7 linked regions of the Homo sapiens genome follow. The protein of the gene in region 1 purifies or fractionates together with the protein of each later gene. This does not show direct contact. Each region holds a gene or a part of one and is shown in the gene's direction. Other genes may lie near its edges.

What was found.
Region 2: the proteins of CIMIP6 (region 1) and GALE purify together in Homo sapiens (affinity purification with mass spectrometry; one large-scale study listed by BioGRID and IntAct). This does not show direct contact.
Region 3: the proteins of CIMIP6 (region 1) and MGME1 purify together in Homo sapiens (affinity purification with mass spectrometry; one large-scale study listed by BioGRID and IntAct). This does not show direct contact.
Region 4: the proteins of CIMIP6 (region 1) and HABP4 purify together in Homo sapiens (affinity purification with mass spectrometry; one large-scale study listed by BioGRID and IntAct). This does not show direct contact.
Region 5: the proteins of CIMIP6 (region 1) and MTHFD2 purify together in Homo sapiens (affinity purification with mass spectrometry; one large-scale study listed by BioGRID and IntAct). This does not show direct contact.
Region 6: the proteins of CIMIP6 (region 1) and SLTM purify together in Homo sapiens (affinity purification with mass spectrometry; one large-scale study listed by BioGRID and IntAct). This does not show direct contact.
Region 7: the proteins of CIMIP6 (region 1) and MCTS1 purify together in Homo sapiens (affinity purification with mass spectrometry; one large-scale study listed by BioGRID and IntAct). This does not show direct contact.

The regions. Positions count from the first base shown.
Region 1 is NC_000002.12:54,354,884-54,358,383, forward strand, and holds part of CIMIP6 (ciliary microtubule inner protein 6), read left to right. Parts: intron 1-3,500.
Region 2 is NC_000001.11:23,797,955-23,802,081, reverse strand, and holds the start of GALE (UDP-glucose 4-epimerase), read left to right. Parts: upstream 1-1,327; 5' UTR 1,328-1,370; intron 1,371-1,503; exon of another isoform or gene 1,504-1,695; intron 1,696-2,534; exon of another isoform or gene 2,535-2,645; 5' UTR 2,646-2,716; intron 2,717-3,069; 5' UTR 3,070-3,074; coding exon 3,075-3,195; intron 3,196-3,351; coding exon 3,352-3,467; intron 3,468-3,851; coding exon 3,852-3,965; intron 3,966-4,127. UniProt on the Homo sapiens protein: Catalyzes two distinct but analogous reactions: the reversible epimerization of UDP-glucose to UDP-galactose and the reversible epimerization of UDP-N-acetylglucosamine to UDP-N-acetylgalactosamine.
Region 3 is NC_000020.11:17,986,018-17,988,819, forward strand, and holds part of MGME1 (mitochondrial genome maintenance exonuclease 1 isoform 2 precursor), read left to right. Parts: intron 1-2,148; coding exon 2,149-2,281; intron 2,282-2,802. UniProt on the Homo sapiens protein: Metal-dependent single-stranded DNA (ssDNA) exonuclease involved in mitochondrial genome maintenance. Has preference for 5'-3' exonuclease activity but is also capable of endonuclease activity on linear substrates.
Region 4 is NC_000009.12:96,488,169-96,491,836, forward strand, and holds the end of HABP4 (intracellular hyaluronan-binding protein 4), read left to right. Parts: coding exon 1-106; intron 107-1,813; coding exon 1,814-1,870; 3' UTR 1,871-3,168; downstream 3,169-3,668. UniProt on the Homo sapiens protein: Ribosome-binding protein that promotes ribosome hibernation, a process during which ribosomes are stabilized in an inactive state and preserved from proteasomal degradation.
Region 5 is NC_000002.12:74,208,615-74,212,114, forward strand, and holds part of MTHFD2 (bifunctional methylenetetrahydrofolate dehydrogenase/cyclohydrolase, mitochondrial isoform A precursor), read left to right. Parts: coding exon 1-107; intron 108-1,327; coding exon 1,328-1,435; intron 1,436-2,584; coding exon 2,585-2,677; intron 2,678-3,126; coding exon 3,127-3,252; intron 3,253-3,500. UniProt on the Homo sapiens protein: Although its dehydrogenase activity is NAD-specific, it can also utilize NADP at a reduced efficiency.
Region 6 is NC_000015.10:58,892,180-58,895,679, reverse strand, and holds part of SLTM (SAFB-like transcription modulator), read left to right. Parts: intron 1-1,097; coding exon 1,098-1,247; intron 1,248-1,486; coding exon 1,487-1,590; intron 1,591-1,692; coding exon 1,693-1,859; intron 1,860-2,315; coding exon 2,316-2,401; intron 2,402-2,619; coding exon 2,620-2,783; intron 2,784-3,500. UniProt on the Homo sapiens protein: When overexpressed, acts as a general inhibitor of transcription that eventually leads to apoptosis.
Region 7 is NC_000023.11:120,607,101-120,610,600, forward strand, and holds part of MCTS1 (malignant T-cell-amplified sequence 1), read left to right. Parts: intron 1-1,124; coding exon 1,125-1,258; intron 1,259-3,500. UniProt on the Homo sapiens protein: Translation regulator forming a complex with DENR to promote translation reinitiation.

The DNA.
Region 1 (3,500 bases):
ATAATACTTAGAATTTTCTGTTCTTTAATCCTTATCTTTTTCAGGAAACAAAAATTTTTGTTATTTTCTTCCTTATATATCAGACATCCTCTTTGATTTATTTCTAGTCTTGAATTCTTCCTCTAGTTTTTCAAAGTAGGTCTGTTTTGGGGGGAAATCATCTGAGGCCTTCCTTTCCTTCCCATGTTTTTGAAATTTTGGCTTCACAGTTAAATGAAAATTTGGTTGGATATAAAAACTCTAGGCTTAAAGTGCTTTTCCTTTTAATATTAAAAAAATTAATTATCTTGTGTCCAATGTTGCTATTGAGAAATTTGATATTAACCTGTTGTTACTCCTTCATAATTTACCTCTTTGAAAGCATTTATAATTTTTCTTTGTCCCAGATGATGTTAAATTTCTCTATTAAATGTCTTAGATGCGAGTTTTTCCTTTATCTGTACTGCAAGATCGAGAGGAGAGTGAGAAACCCAACTAGGGTGTAAAATTTAAGGAGGCACTCACTCCCAGGGTCATGCAAGTGCCTCCTTAAAGTTTTGCATCCTTTGTGTCTCATTGCCTCATTTTTCTCCTGCCCCTGCTACCTGTTTGGTATTCTGTGAGCTCTTTCAATCTGAGGTGTTTGAGCTTTCTTTAATTCTTGGATATATATCATCATCATTTTCTCAAATATTTCCTTCCCTTCCCTCTATTTCTTCTTAGTTCTGGTGTTGATACTTCCACCTTCCATGTCTCTGAGCTTTTCTTTATTTCTTTATCCTTTCCTGCTGCCTTCTGGGACAGCTTCTCAGTCTGATTTTCTAGTTCATGATTCTTGTTGTCTAGACCATGTATTTTTTTGTTTCAACTGTTATATTTTTTATTTCTAACATTTTTTGTTATTCCTTTTTATGACCTGTTCTTGTTCGTATTAACAATACTTTGTTCTGTATCTTTGAGGATATTTGTTATGCTTATTTTAAATTCTTGGTATATTGGTTCTGATAATTCTCCTTCACACAGTATATGTTTTAAAATTTTCTTTTATGGTCAAATTTATGGTAGATCATATTCCCCTAGGGGAATCAGTAGGCCTGTGCAGACAAAGGCTGAAGACCAGGGTCTGGTTTGTATGTCTCCCACTAAATTTGAGGAAAGAAAATGAGGCTCAGGCCAGAGAGCTTCTGGTATCACAAAACCTATTTAGACCATTGTTAATTACTGTCACTCTACTAGGCTGGTCATGTAGTCAGGAATCCACCCTACCACCCTTAAACTGTTAAAAAAAAAAAAAAAAAGGCATCACTGAGATAAGTCAGTATCTTGATGTTTTTAATTCACCAGCATTGACGGTTGCTGGGGGAATGTTGGAGGAAGAAATGCCCAAGGGGGCAACATGTACCCATTTTCATCAGCTCGTTATCCTGGAGGGACTTCTGCGCGCTTCTGCTATTACTGTATTGACAACAACTGGCTAGGCAGTTGCTGCCAGTTTCTGTGGCCCTGGGCAAGCATGATCTTCCCAAGGCAATGTGAGGGAAAGTCAAGAGCAGATTTTAAAAGCTCTCCCACAACTTATTCTTCTTGGCTACATCTGACCTTCCTACCCTCCAGTCCAAATTGCCACCAACCCTTCGTACCAGTTCACTAAAGCCTTTGGGTTTCTCACAGTTTTTTTTTGGTAGCTCCGGTTCCTGCTTCCTTTTCCCTTCCATGGTTTCCCCTTTTGTCAAGATACAAAAGAGCTGGCCCTTTGCTAACTTTGAAGACTCCATAATTTGACCCTAGCATCCTAGAGACTTCACAAACACTGCCCTTAATTTTCACAATTCAAAAAGCAAATTATTGTTTTCTTCATTTTAGAGAGGAGGAAATAGAATTTCAATGAAGTTCAGTGATTTATTTCAAAGTCACACAACTAGGAAATGTGGTAAAGCCAGAATTTGAAAACATGTCTATTTTATTACCAAATGCATGCTTTGGATACTTCATTACCACCACCTAATTAATGCCTAAATTTAGAGCCGCTTCATTCTGTCTATACACGAAGTTATGAAACTGTGTCCGCACATACTAATGTTCTGTGAGTTGGACCATGATATTCATAAAAAAAATGGTCATCTTTTCCCACTTGGTGGAAAAAAATATAAATTATAGATAGAATTTTCTCAGTGTCATGCTTATTAAATCTTTGCACTACTGTTTTCTGTTTTCTAGCAAGTTCTAAAAGAAAGGTAATGATTAAGTAGAAAATGAGTTTTGAGCAGTTGATTGCAATTAGAAATCAAGAAAATGTTAACAGTTAACTTTTTTTATACTGCTAACTGGGAAAAGATTGCCATTTTGTAACATGTAATGTATAAGTATTTGAATATTAGTCATGCTTGCTAATAAAATTAGTTTATAACAATGTCTGAATATCAAAGTGAATTCATGAATGCTTAATACATGTAAATTTACTAACATTTTTTCTTATGTATTCCTCTAATTTTAAAGGTGTGATTTTTAAAAGTTAAATTTTATTTTTTAACAGTTGATATAAGCATATGGCACAAAATTCAAATGGTACAAAAAGATATACAGTGAAAACTGAATCTACTTCTCCCCACCTCTGTCCTCCAGTCACCCAGTTCTCTTTCCCTACAGTCACCACTGTTACCAGTTTGTTACATAGCATTTCACAGATATGTTCGTTGTACATAAACTCTTACGTACTTTTTTTTTTTTTTTTTGAGACACAGTCTTGCTCTGTCACCCAGGCTGGAGTGCAGTGGCGCGATTTTGGCTCACTGGAACCTCTGCCTCCCAGGTTCAAGTGATTCTCCAGCCTCACCCTCCTGAGTAGCTGGGACTATAGGCGTTCACCACCACGCCCAGCTAATTTTTTTTTTTTTTGTATTTTTAGTAGAGACGGGGTTTTCACCATGTTGGCCAGGATGGTCTCGATCTCTTGACCTTGTGATCTGCCTGCCTCTGCCTCCCAAAGTGCTGGGATTACAGGCGTGGGCTACTGCGCCCAGCCACATACATATTTTTTAAGGGAGAAATTTTTGTCCTTGATAGAATTTTACTTCACTAAACTTTTTTTATTGCCAGCAACAGTACTGAAAGTTGCTCTGATCTTTAAATAACCTTCTCTGCTGAAAGTAAAACTGAGTTTTAAAAATTATTTAAGATGTTAAACATACATGGAGCACAGACCAATATAATGAACTCATATACTCATCACCCAGATTGAAAGATTATTTAGAAGTGATTTTTAAAGGATTTCATACTCTTGCAAATTTTTCAGAACCCCTGTTATTGGGCGAAATGAAAAGAATTATGTGTTCAACTACAACTGCAGCAGCCCTAGAGTCTTCCAATTCCATTAGTGCTAGCTTCGGCATACAATTTCTACCCTGTGGCCACAGCCACTGGCCAAACTATAGATTCAACATAGAATTTCTCATACTCTTTCTAGTCGTGAAAAGTTAACAAATTATAGTTATGTTTTCCCTAAAATGTATTGGTATCTGTGT
Region 2 (4,127 bases), on another chromosome or scaffold:
GGCCGTGGGGCCCTTGCTCTCTGACTTCTCAGGACACAGGTCATGGAGGTTCTTCCCAAGCTGGCAGAGGCCATTTGTGGAAAGTGGAGAGCTACGTGGTGGCCGTCTGCCAACTCCAGCATCTCTGGAAAATCTCCACGCTGAATGTGATTTTTGAAAACAGCTTATGTAATTAAAGGTTGAATGGCACATCATAATTCCAGCATTCGGTTGTGCAGCTGTGTGTATACATGCGCGTGGGGGAGTAAAATACTTTACCATGTTGCACTCTGAGAGGAAAATGGAGACTATGAACTAGTTTATTAATCTTTGGATTTCCTCCCTGTTTCCCCACCTGAGCCCCAAATCCATAGTGACTGGAAATCAGTGGTTTTGGGCTTACTCAGGAGGCTGCTTGCGGCAGTTGCTGGCCAGAACACCCGACGGGGTTGTTTCTGAGCTTTGCCTCTGTGACTGGGGCTATTGCACAAGCTCCCCTGAGGACACACTTGCTGCTTTGGGCCTCGGTGGCCCGGCCTCTCCCTGGCGCTCCCGGGCCCGGGAGCGCTCACCTGTCGGTTCCCTGGACTCTGCGGGCAGGCGCTGGCTGATTCCCGGCTGCGCGGACACCTGTGCGCTCCTGCATTTAGGGCTCCTTTGCTCTGGTTTCATCACGCAGGATGTCACATTTTGTGCATATTATTCTCTAGCTCTACTACTTTTCATTGTAAACAAACAATCATTTTCTAACCTGCCGTCGTGGAAGGCAGAGTGCAGACCGACCCTTCCCGGCAGGTGGGGGCTGAGAGCCAAGAGCGCTGGAACCGCTAGTGTGGCCTGACAGCTTCCTCCAGCTCCTTGGTTTATTTGCAAACTGGACTTCCAGCACCAGGCCCCCTGCGACCCCCTCCTGCCTTAGTCCCGTGGGATCGGGTAGTTCAAGATTTTGAATTCATGGTTTGGCACACACCGGCAAGTCTGAAAACCTGCGGGTCAGAGTGGGGCGGAGGCGTGGGCCCCCTACCCTCTGCCCCCTGCCCCCTCGGAAGCGCAGCCCTCTTCCAGGGGTTGGGACGAGCTAGCGCGGGGACCCGGGGCACCGGCAAGGACCCACCCGCTACTGGGACCTGGCGCCGGCGGCGCCTCTCGCGGGGTGGCACCGCCCACTTCCGCCTTCCGCGGGCGCGCGCTGCGCAGTCTTCGTCACAGCGCGGAGGCCTTTTGTCCTCCCGCCCTCCCCGTAGTGGCCGTAACCCGAGTGACATGTTTCCTTGGGGGCGTGGAGGGGCGGGGTCGGGGCCGGAGTGGGCCGTCAGCACTTAAAGGGCCCGCGGCTCGGGCGTAGGAGGCGGTGCCTCTGCAGCAAGCGTGGGGCGCGGGAACCCGAGCAGGTTCGGGAGACGGAATGAAGGGCCGGGTGGGCTCGCGAGGGGCCGGGGAGTCCGCGGGGAGCGAGGGAGTTTCCGAGGGGCGGGTCGTGTTCCTGGCAGCGTCCCTCCAGGGCAGGCCCGCCCCCTTTGTCCCAGTTCCCCGCTGCCCGGGCTGGGGCGGCCGGGGTTCATTCATTGCCGGCCTGAGGACTCCTAGCTCGGCCCCGCTCCGCGCTACAGCCCAAAGCCCAGCCTGAGACCCAGCCGCCCTCGTATGCCCACGGCCTAGCTCCCCTTCCCTCCAACAGACAGACTGGGAAAACCGAGTGGGCGACGGCTGAGCAAGGTCACTCCGCTGTCGGGGGCGCAGCCGGCCTCAGACCAGCTTTCGTGCTTCCCAGGGCCTCTCTGCGACCACTTTCGGGGTCCGCGCCAGGCGCGGGGCGGGGGCGGGGGCGGCTTCGGCGCGGCGGGCAGAGTCCAGCGGGCAGCGGTGGGGGAAGGGCGAGCCGCCTGGGGAGAGGGCCGGGCTGCGAGCCTGGCGATCCAGATTCCAGCCCGCTGTCGCCAGCTGTGGGACCGAAGGGCAACTGTTTCACCTCTCTGGCCCTAGTATCTGTATCTGTAAAGTGCCAGTGATAACACCTGTCTCACCGAGATGCTGGGGGAATTCAGGAAAATCATGCAAAAGTGCCTGGTACGGAGCCTGGCACGCAGAGGGCTCTTGGTCAAGTGGGTTGGAGCTGCGTGAGCCCAGAAGGGGATAGAGGCAGCGTGGAGGAAGGCGGCAGCGGGCCCGGTCGCTGGGAATGAAAGGCCTCAGTGTCTGGGGCTTCCTCCCCGTACTACCCGCAGAGTTTGTTCAGGGTGGAGGTGCGCACCTGGCCAAGTCCACGTCTACACGGCCCACCCAGAGTAGCCTAAGTTGGGCGGGATTCCTAACTCTGAGCCAGGAGTGACCGGGCTGGCCCTGGCATGGGCAGAGGCTGAGCGGGGGTTGGGGTGGGGCCCCCTCCAGGACCAACCACGGTGTGGTTGCCCCTGAGCTGGCCTCAGCCTGCCTGGCAAAGGACCTCACCCTTGAGGCCATGTGATCTATTTCCTGCTTCCTCCCAGCTGACCCTTGAGGGAAAGGGGGTGGGGGCCGCCTAGAGCAGGAGGTATTAGTCACTGCGCCCAGGAGCCAGTTTACACCTAGCGAAGGCGGAGGCATTGGACAAGCCTGGGTCTGAGCAGACAGAACCCCTTCCTGCGACCCTGGAGTCCCAATCGTGCTGCCATTTTCCTTCTGCCCAGGACTCTCCAGTCCTCAGTCACCTTGGACAAAGAAGTGTGGATCCTCAGATTCCATCTTTTCCAACTCCAAGGCAAGTGGAACTAGAAAATAAGGTGCCTGTGTGTCAGGTCTCCCCAGCTCTGCTGTGGCGGGCCCTTAAGATCACCTCACTGAACCCTCACGCTGCCTCATGAAGTTTATACAATTATTAGCTCTGTTTTACAGAGATAGAAACTGAGGCCAAGAGGCTAATTAATTTCCAAAGCCTAAGGCCAGAAAGTGATGGTACCCAGACTTGCCCCAGGGCTGACTTCTGAGCCAGTCTGGTACCTAGGGCACACTGCCGCCTCCTTCCAAAGCGAGCTTAGGGGGCAGGATTCCAGTGGGAAGGAAGCTCTGAGCAGGCAGCCTCAGCCACCTCTGAGACTCTGTATCCTGGGCCAGGTGCCATGGCAGAGAAGGTGCTGGTAACAGGTGGGGCTGGCTACATTGGCAGCCACACGGTGCTGGAGCTGCTGGAGGCTGGCTACTTGCCTGTGGTCATCGATAACTTCCATAATGCCTTCCGTGGTGAGCGGGGCAGTGGGGCTGGGGCTACTTGAGGGGATGGCAGAAGCAAAACCCTGGGTTCCACCTCCACCACCGGGCGGGGAATGTGTGTCTGGCTAGTCCCTGGGAACACAGCACCCCATGTCGTGATGATGTGGCCTACATGTACCCTACCAGGAGGGGGCTCCCTGCCTGAGAGCCTGCGGCGGGTCCAGGAGCTGACAGGCCGCTCTGTGGAGTTTGAGGAGATGGACATTTTGGACCAGGGAGCCCTACAGCGTCTCTTCAAAAAGGTGGGTGCAGGCTGGGCACGGTGGCTCACGCCTGTAATTCCAGCACTTTGGAAGGCCGAGGTGAGGAGATCACTTGAGCCCAGGTGTTCAAGACCAGCCTGCTCAACACAGTGAAACCCCATCTCTACAGAAAAATACAAAAATTAGCTGGGCATGGTAGCCCATACCTGTGGTCCCAGCTACTCGGGAGGCTGGCATGGGAGGATGGCTTGAGCCTGGGAGGTGGAGGTTGCGGTGAGCTGAGATGGCACCACTGTACTCCAGCCTGGACAACAGAGCGAGACTGTCAAAAAAAAAAAAAAAGGTGAGTGCAGGCAGGCAGGCTGAGGGCATTGCCAAGGACTAAAACCAGTAGAGCAACCTCTGGCCATGTCACCCCTGCAGTACAGCTTTATGGCGGTCATCCACTTTGCGGGGCTCAAGGCCGTGGGCGAGTCGGTGCAGAAGCCTCTGGATTATTACAGAGTTAACCTGACCGGGACCATCCAGCTTCTGGAGGTGAGAGGCATGGGACAGGGCACAGACACTAGGAGGGTGTCCAGCTGGACCCCAGCCTGGCAGGCAGTGCCAAACACAGAGCCCAAGCTGTATCATCCTGGACTCATGTCTTTACCTCCCAGTCTCAGTTTCCCCATCTGTAAATGAGAGTGCTCATCACCT
Region 3 (2,802 bases), on another chromosome or scaffold:
GTGTTAATTTTAGGATTTTTTTTTTTCTATTTCTGTGAAAAATGATGTTGGAATTTTTTTTTCTTTTTGAGACAGAGTTTCACCCTTGTCGCCCAGGCTGCAGTGCAATGGCACAGTCTCAGCTCACTGCAACTTCTGCCTCCCAGGTTCAAGTAATTCTCCTGCCTCAGCCTCCCGAGTAGCTGGGATTACAGGGGCACATCACCACGCCTGGCTAATTTTTGTATTTTTAGTAGAGACGAGGTTTCACCATGTTGGCCAGGCTGGTCTGGAGCTCCTGACCTCAGGTGATCTGCCCACCTTGGCCTCCCAAAGTGCTGGGATTACAGGTGTAAGCCACCGTGCCCGGCAGAATTTTTTTTTTTTCTTTTTTCCTGAGACAGGGTCTGGCTTTGTTACCCACGCTGTTGTGCAGTGGTGCAATCTCGGCTCACTGCAAACTCCACCTCCTGGGCTCAGCCTCCTGAGTAGCTGGGACAACAGGCTCCAGCCACAACACCTGGCTGATTTTTTGGTATTTTTTATAGAGACAGGGTTTCACCATGTTGCCCAGGCTGGTCTCGGGCTCCTGAGCTCAAGCAGTCCACCTGCCTTGGCCTCCCAAAGTGCTGGAGATTACAGGTGTGAGCCATCACACCTGGCCTGCCATTGGAATTATGATAAAGATTGCGTGGAACCTATAGATTGCTTTGGATAGTATGGACATTTTAACAATATTCTTCCAGTCCATAAACAGAGGATATCTTACCATTTATTTGTATCATTTTCAGTTTCTTTCATCAATATTTTATAGTTTTCAGAATGCTATTAAGGTTTTTTTTTTTACATTTATTAAGTTCTACAATTACAGTACATTGCTGCAAACAGTGTTCTGTGGCAGAAATATAACATGGTGGCTCACACCTGTAATCCCAGCAGTTTGGGAGGCCAAGGCGGGTGGATCACTTGAGGTTAGGAGTTGAAACCAGCCTGGCCAATAGGGCGAAACCCCATCTCTACTAAAAATACAAAAATTAGCTGGGCGAGGTGGCGCACACATGTAATGCCAGCTACTCAGGGGGCTGAGGCAGAAGAATAGCTTGAACCCAGGAGGCGGAGGTTGTGGTAAGCCGAGATTACACCACTGCACTCCAGCCTGAGTGAGACTCCATCTAAAAAAAAAAAAAAAAAAAGAAGAACCAGGAATGGCATCCTAGAGTTACTGGGGCCCTTTTCTCAACTACACAGATTGTCAAACTTGGCAATATTACAAAACAATTCTGAAGACAATAAAATTATCTCTAAACCTAAACTGTCCAGTAGAGTAGCCACTAACCCCTATAGCTATTGAGCATTTGAATGTGGTCAGGCCAAACTAAGGTGTGCTATAGCAATATACAAACTACATTTCAATGACTTTGTACAAAAAAGAATGTAAAATATCCCTATAATAAAAAAAAGACGTAAAATATCCCATTAATCATTTGTTAGTTGATTACATGTTGAAATGATATTTTGGATATGTTGGGTTAAGTAAAATGTTAAAATTTCAGCTGTATTTTTTTTTTCTTTTCCGATGTGGCTACTAGAAAATTTAAAATGACACATGGCTCACATTTTACTTCTTTTAGCCAGTGCTGCTCTAGACTGAGTTTGCATGAGGTGTAACTGTCTAGAGCTATAGTGACATGTAAGTAATATACATGCTTTGTACAAAATCTCCCTATAAACTGCTGATTTTGAAATTGAAGTCATGAAAGACAGATTGAACCGATAGAGTCCTTTGAGAGTCACCAGTTACTGGTCCACTCTCTGTATCCTTTTGATATTTGCATTTGGCAAGTATAAACCCGACCAGGATAGGGGATGGGGGGAGGAATCCACTGGTTATTTGATGCAAAAAAAGAGGGAGAAAAAGTGGGGGGGTGCACTTATAGTCCCAGCTACTTGGGAGGCTGAGGTGGGAGGATCACTTGAGCCCAGGAGTATGCGTTTAGCCTGGGCAACATATGAAACCCCATCTCTTTTTTAAAAAAGGAAAAAAATGGTGAATAAGAGCAATGGTCATTGGCTGACAAGTAACAAACTATACATAAGAGAACTGTTAACCTAGTAGAGATTTTCATTGTGATCTATTACCTACAAAGTCTTCCTGTGGTTTCTCTTTAGGGGCAAGCTCTGTGTGATTGATTGGAAGACATCAGAGAAACCAAAGCCTTTTATTCAAAGTACATTTGACAACCCACTGCAAGTTGTGGCATACATGGGTGCCATGAACCATGATACCAACTACAGCTTTCAGGTCAGGACACTGAGCCTTTACTTAAAGCTTTGCTCAATGCTTACTTAAAACTATAACTCCGGGCCGGGCGCAGTGGCTCATGCCTGTAATCCTAGCACTTTGGGAGGCCAAGGCCGGTGGATCACTTGAGGTCAGGAGTTCAAGACCAGCCTGGCCAATATGGTGAAACCCTGTCTTTACCAAAAATACAAAAACTAGCTGGGCATGGTGGCTCATGCCTGTAATCCCAGCTATTCTAGTAGCTGAGGCAGGAGAATTGCTTGAACCCGCGAGGTGGAGGTTGTAGTGAGCCAAGATTGCGCCACTACACTCCAGCCTGGGCAAGAGAGTGAGACTCCATCTCGAATCTGTCTCAAAAAAAAAAAAAAAAACTTCTCAGTGGGGGGGTAGGAGGAGAAAAATTGTAAAAAAAAAAAAAGTTAAAAAATAGAACTCCTTGAGGTTTTTCCTTTTTTAATCTCTATTTTTATCCCATTGCTTAACGTCTTCCTTGTTCCTTTCCCACTTAAAAAAGCACTTTT
Region 4 (3,668 bases), on another chromosome or scaffold:
TTTTGGTAACCTCCCTCGTCCTGGGCGTGGAGCCAGAGGAGGCACCCGGGGAGGCCGGGGAAGGATCAGGAGGGCAGAGAACTATGGACCCAGAGCAGAAGTGGTGGTAGGTGTCTGTATTGACGGTTTGGCGAAAGAAGTTAATAAGGACAGTGCCCTGGGCCCAGGATGGTCTAATTTCAGAGGGTCATGAGTTTCTGCAGTCACTTCTTTCTGTAGCTAGTGTGGGACTGATGTTGGGGCATTTGGACGGTGTTGTAGCATCATGGACATCTTGCCTAGAGACCGTTCTGTAGCCCTGGCTTCCAGGGTCTGCTGTGAAGGCACTCCCGGGATCAGAGAGAAACTCACTGTCACCCGCATTAGACAAGATCCCCAGGCTTGGGATTGAACTGGAGCACCTGACGTTTTGCTTACTGTGGCCTGATTGTGTGCCTTGGGCTCAGGTGATGCTGTCAGAGTGGACAGAATCCTCCCTAAGATCTCAAGCCCTTTGTGAGGGGACCTTCCTCAACCCCTCCCCGGCTCACCTGCCTCACACCGTCCTCAGCCAAGGCTGCCTGATTCTAGCTCTCAACACAGCACGCTCCTTACCCCTGGCCTCTGCCTGCTGGCCTCCATTCATCCTTCCAGCCTCACTTCCTCACAGGTTTCTTTGATCACATCTCCTAGACCGATCAAGGTCTCGGAGCAAAGGAGTTTCTTTTCATTGAAGCCTGATCTCCGTGTGCGGCTGTATTCTCACTGGTGTGGCTATCGGTCAGCGGCTGCTTTTGCTCATTACCGGTTTACGCAGTGCCACGCAGTGCCTGGCATGTAGTAGGTGCTTCCTAATGTGGTATGGACACTTATTCATTGGAAATCAGCCCCGAGGCCCCATGGCACAGACCCCTTCTCTGTGGCTGGTCTTGGCAATGCTCCTCCTGCTGCCCGGTTCCCTCGCTCTAGGGAGCAGCCCCTGGAAGCAGTGTCTATGGTTTGTTTTTGCTTAAGCAGGAGCAAAAACACAATTTTTTGGGCGGGGGGTGTAGGGGTATATTTGGGGCCAGGTTGGAAATAGGGTCTATTCTGCGATAGGAAACACACCCTCACTCCTTTCCTATAGCGGAGCTCTGTCCCCTGCAGCACTCCAGGGAGTGTGTTGGGAAACCACTCTGAGATCCAGTGCCACCCACCTCTTCACTGGCATCTGTCCCCACCTCCACAACCTGTGCATCCCTCCACCTCAGAACCGCCCTTAGGGCCCGCCCCCGCCCCCATCAGGTCACACTGTTTCCCAATCCAAGTCCTTGTTCCCTTTGCTCATCCATTGAGGTTCATCCCAGGGAGAACCTTCTCTTCCCACAAAACCTTGCCTGACCTTGGTGTCCACTGTGCCACCAAATTGCACTGGATGGCCCTCCTGTGGCCCCTCCTTCCCAGGACGTGTTAGTGAAGCTCCTGATTCGATGGTCAGTTTCTCCAGCACCGTGAGCTCCCCGAGGATAGGCACTGTCTGTGCTCCTCCAGTGCCCGGCACGCAGTAACCATTCTATTTACTCGATGAAGGACGTGCCCATGCAGAACCCCCAGTAAGAGCTTGCAGGACGTAGGAAGGGAGGCAGCTCCTTTTTCGAGGAGGCTGGAGGCCTGTGTGGGAGGGGGAGCTGTACTTTCCTGGGTTAGCAGTGACCTGTGACTCTCCCCTTCCCACTGTGGGTCCTGCCTCTAATGCAGGCCCCTCAGCGTTGGTGCCAGGCCCTTGTTATCCCACTGGGATATCGGGAATGGATGAAGGGGCAGTGGATTTCAAAGTATTTCTTTTTTTCTTTAGATGCAAGATGTTGCCCCCAACCCAGATGACCCGGAAGATTTCCCTGCGCTGTCTTGAAAGAGCCCTGTTTCCCAGCACCGCGGAGCTGCACTGCACACCTGTGGGGAGACTTTTCCAGCTGGGCCAAGGGAGTCAGACTCTAAGAACAATAGATGTTGCTTTTCCCGTGTCATGTAAATTTGTTGCACTTTTTTGGGCTGAGCTGTTAGAGGGGCTTCTCCAGAGGCTCGAGAGCAGGCCATTTCCCAAGAAGATGAAGAATGGTGACTGTGTTTTTATTGAAGGAATTTCAAATGAAGAATAATGTTTAAAATGTGTATATAGAGATAGTATAGACTCCTCCGCGGAAGCATGGAGGGAAAGGAGGTTGTAAAATAGACTCCATGGAGACTCTTAGGAAGCAGTAGATTCCCGGGGGCTGTGCCTTTAGCGTTAGAGGAAACACATAGAGCTGGAACTGTTAATGGAAAGCAGTCACAGCTGAGTTTTCGGAGACCAAGAAATTAAAATACAATTGCACTTACTGTTTACTTGTAAATGTTATCTTCTCTCCTGGAATATTTTGAGTTCTGGTTTTCACTTAACCAATCATTTAAAAATCGCTATTGTGTAGCCACTGGCCACCACTCTGTGACACAGAATCAGAGAAAGCGTTGATTTTTAATGGTGATTTAAACTACCTCGTGGTTTCTGTGTGTGTGCACACACACATCTAGTGTTTGGGTGGTTTTTAGGAAGAATATTAAGTATGTGACTTCAAAAACCATGTTATTTAACCTGCCAATCAAATGGAAAGGGATCATGGCAAAAGCAAATACCGCATCCTTTTCTTCCGCAGAACTAGAGTCAGAGTTCGGCAGCTGCGTACAAAGGCCTCTGCCCTCGGCTTGAGCAAAAGTTGTAAATAACTAGTATTTATTAAGCACTTATAAGCAGTTTTTCTCACTTAGTCCTGGCTCCAGTTCTAGAGTTCCTCTTTATTGCTTTTGGTGAAAGTTTGGGGTTGGGGGTACACCTCAGAGGTTCAGTAATTCACCTGGAGTCCCACCCTGAACAGAGCTGGACCCAGAGCCACACACGCCCGGGAACACACACTGTGCTGGGGAGGAAGTGGGCCTAGGAGGGCCTGCAGGTCCAGGCAGCTGTAGAGCTGCTAGAAGCTGGGGTGTTGCTCTCCCCGCTTTCTCATAGACACAGAGGTACTGTCTGCCTGTTGTCACACAGTTCATATGCTCGCTTGAGATGGAATCTGAACCTTGGTCCCAGGATCTGTGCTTTTTCCCACTTTGCCACACTGTCTAAGGTGGCTTTGAACTGGAACCCAAGTGCAAATAAAGGTTGGTATTCGCTCCTGACTTTGTGTAGAGAAAACAGTCCTTTGGTTACTCCAGGCCACAGCAGTCGGTCATGATTTTGTTGAATAATCAAAGTTGAATCCATACACGTTAGGGTCAGTTAAGGATGTTTGCTTTGGGTGATAGCCTACTTTTGGTCTCTTATTTATTATCTGAGTACTAAGGTTTATCAACTGAGTGTTTTCTTCCCTTTCCTGGAAAAGGCAATGGATGCAAGTGCCCTGATTTCTGAAATCTGAACCTAGCCGGTACAACATCAGGGCTGTGTCATGAGTCAGTGGCTTTGAAGCTGTCACACTGTCATTTTGCCTAACTGCGGCTTTGAAGATTAGCCAGAGAGCCCTTTGAAGAAACTTTCCTTTAGTGTTGTGAATAATACTTGAAAAGCCCACAGCACTTGGTTTAATGTTGCAGTTGCAAAAACACTGACAGTTCCTATCCCATAGAGCTGTTGAGTCATGTGGTTGAAGACAGTTTTGGGGAACCCGGTGCACGTTCTG
Region 5 (3,500 bases), about 20 Mb from region 1:
GGATGTTGATGGCTTTCATGTAATTAATGTAGGACGAATGTGTTTGGATCAGTATTCCATGTTACCGGCTACTCCATGGGGTGTGTGGGAAATAATCAAGCGAACTGGTAGGTATATCCCAGAATTGCATGTCTGTGTTAATATTATAAAAGTAGTACTGGCAAATGGTAAAAACTCATACAGTCCCAAAGAGTGGAAACCCTACTGCATATCCTCTAGTCTTACTCCCCAAAGTTTACCTCTCTTAACAGTTTTTTTTTTGTTTTTTGTTTTTTTTGAGACAGGGTCTTGCTCTGTCACCCAGGCTGGAGTGCAGTGGCGCGATCTTGGCTCACTGCAGCCTCTGCCTCCTGAGTTCAAGCGATTCTCATGCCTCAGCCTCCTGAGTAGCTGGGATTACAGGCACGTGCCACCATGCCCAGCTAATTTTTTTATTTCTAGTAGAGACAGGTTTCACCATATTGACCAAGCTGGTCTCGAACTAGGCCTCAGGTGATCCGCCCCCTCAGCCTCCCAGAGTGCTGGGATTATAGGCATGAGCCATCGTGCCTGCCCTTAACAGTTGCCTATGACAGTTTTTGCTTTTTAATCCAGAAGTCTCAGTGAAGGAAATTTTCTATTTTTCTTTTTCTTTTTTTTTGTTTTTGAGACGGAGTCTTGCTCTGTTGCCCAGGCTGGAGTGCAGTGGCGTGATCTCGACTCACTGCAAGCTCCACCTCCTGAGTTCATGCCATTCTCCTGCCTCAGCCTCCTGAGTAGCTGGGACTACAGGTGCCCACCACCATGCCTGGCTAACTTTTTTTTTTTCTCGTATTTTTAGTACAGACGGGGTTTCACCGTGTTAGCCAGGATGGTCTTGATCTCCTGACCTTGTGATCCACCTGCCTTGGCCTCCCAAAGTGCTGGGATTACAGGTGTGAGCCATCGCGCGTGGCCTCTATTTTTCTTTTTAATTTTTTCTTTAAGAGTCAGAGGTTTCATCATGCTGCCCAGGCTGGTCTCAAACTCCTGGCCTCAAGCAATTCTCCTACCTTAGCCTCCCTGGCCTCAAGCAATCCTCCCTCCTGCTGGGATTACAGGTGTGAGCCACCGCCCCAGCCCTCAGTGAAGGAAATTTAAGATTTGATAGTGGTGACAGTGCACATTCCTGTAACATTTTGTAGCCTGTAGTATGCTTTCTCCTGTTTTCTTTTAGCCCTTATTATGTGTAGCAAGTTACAGCTCCAGTTGACTGATGAGGCAAAATTGGGTTCATGTTCTAGGCCATCTGACTTTGTTTTCCTTTGGACTGGCACTACTTTTAATGTCAATACATATATTTTTATAGGCATTCCAACCCTAGGGAAGAATGTGGTTGTGGCTGGAAGGTCAAAAAACGTTGGAATGCCCATTGCAATGTTACTGCACACAGATGGGGCGCATGAACGTCCCGGAGGTAAGGAAATTGCTTTCAGGGAACACTGTCCTTTTTTCCCCATGTAAGAACTTTCAGAAGCCATCCTGTGCATGTTTGGAAGTATTAACTCTGTTATACTTTGTATTTGTTGAAATTTTGTTAACAGACAATTCAGGGAGTAACCTTTGTAGAGAAGCTGCACCCAGTGTCACCTGAGTTTCTTTATTATTCATTTATCATGTAACTAGCTTCAGAAATAAATTTAAGTTTTGAGTATAAGCATGGTTGTAGGCAATTAGAAAATTTCAGCTATAGCTTTGATAGCTGGAGCTAAGGAGCAATTCTTATTCAAAGATACTGTGTCATTTAGTGGAAAAAAATCTTTAGCCGTTGCAAAGGATTGGATTGGTATGACTGTAATGTGTCCTGTCAGGTTCTGTTAATTGGTTCTAAGGTAAAGCCTCGTCAATCAGTTATCACATAATTATTGTAATAATGACCTTACATGATTATATCAGAAATAAAGGCAAAACTATATACTTTCAACTATCTTTCAACATACTTAAAACAACCTTGAGTAATTTTAGTGATATTTTGCTTAGAAAAGGTAAAATTCTTGAAAGGCTTTAAAAATAGGATGAATAAATTTAATTATATGACTCAAAACAGTCGAGCTGGGACCAATGGGTTAAAGCTATATGATATTAGGTATTAATTTTAAAAAAGTAAATGACAATTAGCTGTTCAGAAAACATGGCACAAGCCATTAAGTCAGTTTTTTTTTTTTTTTTTCCTGGAGATGGAGTCTTGCCCTGTTGCCCAGGCTAGTGCAGTGGCACAATCTTGGCTCACTGCAACCTCCACCTTCCAGGTTCAAGTGATTCTCATGCCTCAGCCTCCCAAGTAGCTGGGATTACAGGCATGCGCCACCACGCCCAGCTAATTTTTGTATTTTTAGTAGAGACGGGGTTTCACCATGTTGGCCAGGTTGGCCTCGAACTCCTGACCTGGTGATCTGCCCACCTCGGCCTCCCAAAGTGCTGGGATTACAGGCGTGAGCCACTGCACCTGGCCGTAAGTCAATTATTTTTCAGAGATGTTGAGTTTCTACAATGACTTGACTAGTTGAGACCTAATCCAATCCCAGCTTTGTGTCAGAAATCAAGACATCTATTTTTTTCTTTCTAGGTGATGCCACTGTTACAATATCTCATCGATATACTCCCAAAGAGCAGTTGAAGAAACATACAATTCTTGCAGATATTGTAATATCTGCTGCAGGTAAGAACACAAGGGGGATGGAGGGAAGGACTTCACCTCAGAAGAGGAGGTTGTACCCCTCATCTTAGAATTCGCCTGCCTAGCTGCTATTCATCATTCCCCTTGTAATGATTCTTTGAGCTGCCTACAAAGATGAGGATAGAGTTGTGATTGGAATACCGGTTTCTGGCAGTCCATTATAGTCTAGATGGGTGAATGTTATTCCTAAAGCTTCAAAATATTTATATTAATATTTACTGTATAAAGTTTAAATGGTTCCTTTTGTTTCCTGTCAGGAGCCAAAATAAAAAAATAATAAAAGTAAATAGTTCCTTAGTTAATATTTTTAACAGGTTTTAATAAAACATGTTGATTAGTTCTTCAGGGTCTCTTGAAATTGAAGTTAGACAAGAATCTGACAGGTAGACTGTTTTCAGTACTAAGTTGATCTTTCCTTTCTCCATTTCCAGGTATTCCAAATCTGATCACAGCAGATATGATCAAGGAAGGAGCAGCAGTCATTGATGTGGGAATAAATAGAGTTCACGATCCTGTAACTGCCAAACCCAAGTTGGTTGGAGATGTGGATTTTGAAGGTAAATGGTGAAATTTTATTTTTAAAAATGAAATCAATAAATACTACCTTTCATGGACATTTAGGATAGATTATTTACTTTTTTTTTTTTTTTTTTTTTTGAGATGGGAGTCTCACTCTGTTGCCCAGGCTGGAGTGCAGTGGCGCGATCTCGGCTCACTGCAACCTCTGCCTCCTGGGTTCAAGCTATTCTTCTGCCTCAGCCTCCCGAGTAGCTGGGACTCCCAAAGTGTTGGGATTATAGGTGTG
Region 6 (3,500 bases), on another chromosome or scaffold:
AAACTATATGAGGATACCATTTATTTGGTAAGAAGACCCGTGGAGTTAAAAAATAAATGGCTATGGAGCAAATCAGCCTTTCCTAGGGTTGAGGTAAAAGTTGATTTGTTCCAGCCACCCATACCATAAAACTCCTGATTTTCCTGTTTACTTCTTCCCAGCTTTATGTCTTTACTCTTCTTTGTTCAGCACCGAATCGTTCTCTCTCTTTTCTTCTCACTCATCCATCCCTGCTTTGTCTCTCTTAACTAACCATCTTACACAATTGCAATTATTTGTCATGTTCATATACGTTTTAAAAGCACATAGATTGAAAGTGTTGTCTTTCAAGCTTTAGGGTGTTTTTCGGGGGATGCATTTTTAAGTCCGCTTTTTTATATGTGATTGGTTCTTTACTCATTATAGAAAAGTGTTAACACTCATCAATAAAATACTAGAAACTTTCTCTAAAGACATTCAGGGTGGGCCTATGATAGGGATATTTTGGTTCAAATCCAATTTATTTGCTTTTATTAATTGTGCCATTACTTCATTGATGAGATTGTGTTTTGGCTACATATTTGAGGGGAGGAAATAAATATAAAAAGGTTAAATTGCTTTTTGGCACTTTAAATTGTTCCCCTGAATATTTACTAAGATGGGTAACGTAGATGGTGATCACAAGAATATGAAATAGGCTGGCTGCAGTGGCTCATGCTTGTAATCCCAGCACTGTGGGAGGCCGAGGTAGGCCGATCACCTGAGGTCAGGCCTTTGAGACCAGCCTGGCCAACATGGCAAAACCCTATCTGTACTAAAAATACAAAACTTAGCAGGGCATGGTGGTGCATGCCTGTAATCCCAGCTACTTGAGAGGCTGAAGGAGGGGAATTGCTTGAACCCAGAAGGCAGAGGTTGCAGTGAGCTGAGATCACACCACTGCACTCCAGCCTGCGTGACAGAGTGTGACTCCATCTCAAAAAAAAAAAAAAAAACATGAGACAGAATAAGATACACCCTGAATTAATATATAGTTTCAGTTGTGAAGTTTCATGTATTTAGAAGTCTGTGTACTTGGAACGTTGTAAAACTCTCTAAAGTACAGTCTGATTTTATAGGTTCTGAGTGCAAAAGTAGTTACAAATGCTCGAAGTCCTGGGGCAAAATGCTATGGCATTGTAACTATGTCTTCAAGCACAGAGGTGTCCAGGTGTATTGCACATCTTCATCGCACTGAGCTGCATGGACAGCTGATTTCTGTTGAAAAAGTAAGCTTCCCTAACTGTTTATCAAAGCAAGTCTAATTTGATGGCTAGTTCTCAACTCATAGCTGTTAACAGTAGCAGGGAGTAGAATTTGCAGTGATTTTTAATTTTTATGTATTTGTAGTTTTTACTCTCCTTATATTTTTCCTATCGTTTCCAAATTTTCTGCCATTAGCACACTTCTTATAATCACAAAAATGTAACCATATGTACAAATTGTTTTTCTGGTTCGAACCTTTCAGGTAAAAGGTGATCCCTCTAAGAAAGAAATGAAGAAAGAAAATGATGAAAAGAGTAGTTCAAGAAGTTCTGGAGATAAAAAAAATACGAGTGATAGAAGTAGCAAGTAAGGATTTATTTTTATTTATTTATTTTGATAAGCAGATAGACTTTTTTGGTACATTATGAAGTACTCATTCTGTTTTTTTGTCTGGGGCGGTATGGTCAGGACACAAGCCTCTGTCAAAAAAGAAGAGAAAAGATCGTCTGAGAAATCTGAAAAAAAAGAAAGCAAGGATACTAAGAAAATAGAAGGTAAAGATGAGAAGAATGATAATGGAGCAAGTGGCCAAACATCAGAATCGATTAAAAAAAGTGAAGAAAAGAAGCGAATAAGTATGCTATACATCTTTTCAATCCCTTTCTAATGCATTCTACTACTTAATTTTTACAGTGGAAGGGAAAACCTGAAATTCTAATCCAGATATAAGCTTTGTTGTTAGGTGTCATTGTGGTAGGAAAGGAGGTCTAGTAGGAGTAATTGTCTTCTTTTCTACTCTGGGGAAACAAACAAATGTATTCTTCCAGCTAAGCTCCTTTGCTATTCTGGGCTGACTTAAAATGGTCATTGATTAGTACTATTGAATTAGGATCTTTTGGTATCACTGAAAGTATTTATGTTAGCAGACTGAACTGTTTAAAAAACTCTTTGCATTGAAGTTCTTGTAGAATAAGTAGTTTTTTTATTTCATGTATTGGTGTGTGACTATCAGAATTTAGCATTTTTACATACATATTTTCTTTCTCAATGAAAAATTTTAGACATTGTTTTATATAATTTTTTTCCCTTAGGTTCCAAGAGTCCAGGACATATGGTAATACTAGACCAAACTAAAGGAGATCATTGTAGACCATCAAGAAGAGGAAGATATGAGAAAGTAAGTCTCTGATCAGGATGGTTGTATACTACTTCAGCTGTTTACAAAAGAAGATAATTCTGTTTTTCCATAACCATCTTTGCGTACTTGCATGCTAGCAAACCCAAGAAAAAGGAAATGTTACTAGTCATTTGAACTTTTTAAATGACCTACTAAACTTGAAAAATAAAGCCCCAAAATATTTTAATTTCTAGTGTTCTTCTAATTTTTTTCTACAGATTCATGGAAGAAGTAAGGAAAAGGAGAGAGCTAGTCTAGATAAAAAAAGAGATAAAGACTACAGAAGGAAAGAGATCTTGCCTTTTGAAAAGATGAAGGAACAAAGGTTGAGAGAACATTTAGTTCGTTTTGAAAGGCTGCGACGAGCAATGGAACTTCGAAGGTAGGAAGAGAGTCTGTTTTATACCTGTCTTTAAATATAGGTAAATATTTAACACTAGTTGTAAGCCATATTTCTGGAAATTGTATTCCCACAGAAAACTGTTTGCCACCTTAAAGAAGTTACGGTAGCATCTAATGATTTCTTAAGTTTGCATAGCACTTTACAATTTACAAAGTGCTTTTCCATCTGTTGTCTCCAACTCAACAGTTCTGTAAGGCTAGTTATGCCCATTATACAATTGAAAAAAATGGAGGCCCAGAGAGGCTAAATGACTCTTCCAATGGCCACATGGCTAACAAGTGGCAGAGTCGGGACTCAGACCCAAGTCTTCTGACTCCAAGTCCAATGCTCTTTCCTCAACACCAAAGCTGCTGCCATAAAAAACATGACTTCAAAGGAAAAATTTGAGATAAGATAGTTTCAAAGTAGCTACAGTGTTCAAATACTGTAATCTGAAATTTTAACAAATTTAGCAAAAATTTATTGTTTGCATTAGTGCCTAAGAGAAGGAAGATTTGCCCTGTGAGCCTAATGGTATTCGGATTATATCCCAAAGCAAGCATTCTCTTTAAAACAAACGGAAAATATAAACAAAGCAAGATGTTTCCATTTTTAGTGGCCATATCTCAACAGTTCACGAGTGTCAGTTTACTTTTGTATATCAATTTTTGGATGCCACTTAAAATAGTCTTGTGGGTGTGTTTTATAGTATATTAT
Region 7 (3,500 bases), on another chromosome or scaffold:
TTTTTTAAAATTGGGCTCTCTGTTACATAGTTTTTAAAAATTGATACGTCATAGCTGTACATTGTCTGCTGTTGTGGTGCCTGTATCCCCCACCACCTATATATATTTATAATAGTTGTACATATTTTAGGGGTACATGTGATATTTGATACCTTTATACAGCGTGTAATGATCAAATCAGGGTAATTAGGGTATCTGTCACCTCAAACGTTTATCTTTGTGTTGAGAAGATTACAATTCTTCTAGCTATTTTGAAATATAGAGTAAATCATTGTTAAATATAATTTCCTTATTGTACTCTCGAATACTAGAACTTATCGACCTGTATTTTTATACCCCTTAACCAACTTCTCCTCATCCCCTTGTAGTTTTTTTTTAAATTAACAGGCTTTTATTTTTTAGAGCAGTTTTAGGTTTCCAGAAAAAGTAAGCAGAAAGAATAGAGTTCCCTCTCCCCAGTTCAGATTCCCCTATGAATAACATCTTGTTTTGGAATGATACATTTGTAACAATTGAACCAGCATTGATACATTATTATTAACGCAAGTCCTTAGTTTACATTAGGGTTTACTCTTTGTATTCTACAGTTTTATGGTTTTTCCCAAATACATGTCAAGTATCTACTGTTAAAGTATCATACAGAATGGTTTTACTGGCCTAACATCCTTTGTGCTCCACCTATTCATCCTTCCTCCCCCCACTTCCCCAACCCCAGGTAACCACTGATCTTTTTAATCGTTTTTTTACTCTGCGTTTTTCACTTAACATTATATCACAAAAATTTCCCAGGGCATATTAAGTAGTCTCCAAAAACCATAGTTTTGAAATTACGGTTTTTGGAGAATACTTGGGATGCTGAGGCGGGAAGATTGCATGAGTCCAAGAGTTCAAGGTTATTGTGAGGTATTGATTGCTCCACTGTACTCCAGCCTGGGTGGCAGAGCAAGACCCTGTCTCAAAAAAACAAACAAAAAAGATTACCAATTTGGTAAACAAATGATAGTGTTTCAGAGTTTTCTTTTGTATCTGTCAGATTAATTTGGGGAAATACTGTTCAGATCCTTTGCCTTTTTCTGTTGAGTCATTAGTCTTATTATTAATATATTGTATATCTTTTCTTACAGATCCTTTTATCCTGCCACACCAGCAGGTTGATAAAGGAGCCATCAAATTTGTACTCAGTGGAGCAAATATCATGTGTCCAGGCTTAACTTCTCCTGGAGCTAAGCTTTACCCTGCTGCAGTAGATACCATTGTTGTATCCTTCCCAGGCTAAAACTGCTGAAAAATGTATTCATTGTGCTCTTATCATTACTGCGAAAGGTGTACCATCCAAGAGAACATTAGATGTACTTTTTTGAAGGTTACTGTTACTCTTATCTCATGCCTTTCTGGTTACATTTGAAGTTGTACAAAGTAATTTTATTTGTTGCTACTAAATTATCTCATCTTAGGTCGTTTCTTAGAAGTTAAATGAGAACAAGTTACAGAAGAGTCTCAGCTGCATTTCAGCCCAGTCAGGGCCTACTGTTATCAGACTTAGGACACAATAGGGAATTCTTGATTACTAGGGGAAAGGATATAGATGATATAATTGGATCAGCTTTTTGGATATCAACTTGCCACTGTAATGTTCATTTTGACTTACTGACATACGTTGGAGTGAAAGCTCTCAAAAGGGAAAAGAATTTAGGCACCAGGTATAGGTATCTCTTACCAAGCAACAATTTTGTGTTAGGAGTGAATAGTGGGAAATATTGGCAACCTCCAACTTTTATTTTGAAAATTAATTATTTGAAAAGTTGAGTTTGGGGGCCTCAGAGCACGTTTTCTCAAAGAGAAATGTCAGAGTCCCAGATGGTCCTTAAAGATCGATTCAACTCATGACATAGCTGAATAATTCTGCATTATTTCCATTTCTACCATGCTGTTTCAGCTATTTTCTGGATTAAATAGATTTTTGTGACTATTCTGGACAGGAGAACATCTTCTCCTTTATCATAGCTAAAGTAGCCATTTGCCTCGGGTATAGAAAAGGAATGGTACTTGGTGGGAATAGGGAAACTACTTTTAGAGTGTGTTTATCTTATTTTAGTTTTTGAGATGGAGTCTCGCTCTGTCGTCCAAGCTGGAGTGCAGTGGCACGATCTTGTCTCACTGCAACATCTGCCTCCTGGGTTCAAGCAATTCTCCTGCCTCAGCCCCTCGAGTAGCTGAGGTTACAGGCACCCACTACCACGCCCGGCTCATTTTTGTATTTTTAGTAGAGACAGGGTTTCACCATGTTGGTCAGGCTAGTCTCAAACTCCTGACCTCAGGTGATCCACCCGCTTTGGCCTCCCAAAGTGCTGGGATTACAGGTGTGAGCCACCACACCTGGCCAGGGGTGTGTTTAAGAAGAATAAGAAAAAAAAATGATATTCTCTGTTGGGGCAGTTATAGCGAAGAGGTAGTATAAGTAGTATGTTTATATTCTAGGAACAGCTTATGTTGACATGCTTTTTGCCTAATAGGTGCTCACATATTTGGAACACTGAGTGAATTGAAAATCAAGGGAGAAAAGTGAGGACGGGTTTTTTGTTGTTGTTGTTTGTTTTTAATATTTATTAAGTGTTGGTAAATTTATAGTTCTGGAGTTAACCTTAAATGGAAAATTTCCTTAGTACCTAGTCTTTACTTTTAAAAATAATTTTTATTTTGAAACAGTTACAGATTTAGAGAAAGTTGTTAAAGAAAATGGTACAGAGAGGTCTTGTGTACCCTGAATCTTGACTTTTTAAAATATGTACTGCAGTGTTTAACATTCCAGAAACTTCATATGTTAACCAAGACCACTCTGGTTTTTCTAGAAAGGTTGAAACTGTTATATCAGGCTCTTAAAGATAGACTGGGAATTTACCTATTATTTTAAAACAGCCTTTACATAAAACCACCATTCAGGCCGGGTGTGGTGGCTCATGCCTGTAATCCCAGCACTTTAGGAGGCTGAGGCGGGCAGATCACCTGAGGTCAGGAGTTCGAGACAAGCCTGGCCAACATGACGAAACCCTGTCTGTACTAAAAATACAAAAATTAGCTGGGTGGGGTGGCATGCGCCTGTAATCCCATCTACTAGGGAGGTTGAGGCAGGAGAATTGCTTGAACTCAGGAGGCAGAAGTTGCAGTGAGCTGAGATCATGCCACTGCACTCCAGCCGGGTGACAAAGCAAGACTCCATCTCAAAAAAACAAACGGCCGGCTATGGTGGCTCACGCCTATAATGCCACCACTTTGGGAGGCTGAGGCAGGCGGATCATGAGGTCAGGAGTTCAAGACCAGCCTGGCCAACATGGTGAAATCCCATCTCTACTAAAAATACAAAAATTAGCTGGGTGTGGTGGCACACGCCTGTAGCACCAGCTACTCGGGAGGCTGAGGCAGGAGAATTGCTTGAACCCGGGAGGCAGAGGTTGCAATGAGCCAAGACTGCGCCATTGCACTCCAGCCTGGGCAACAGAGTG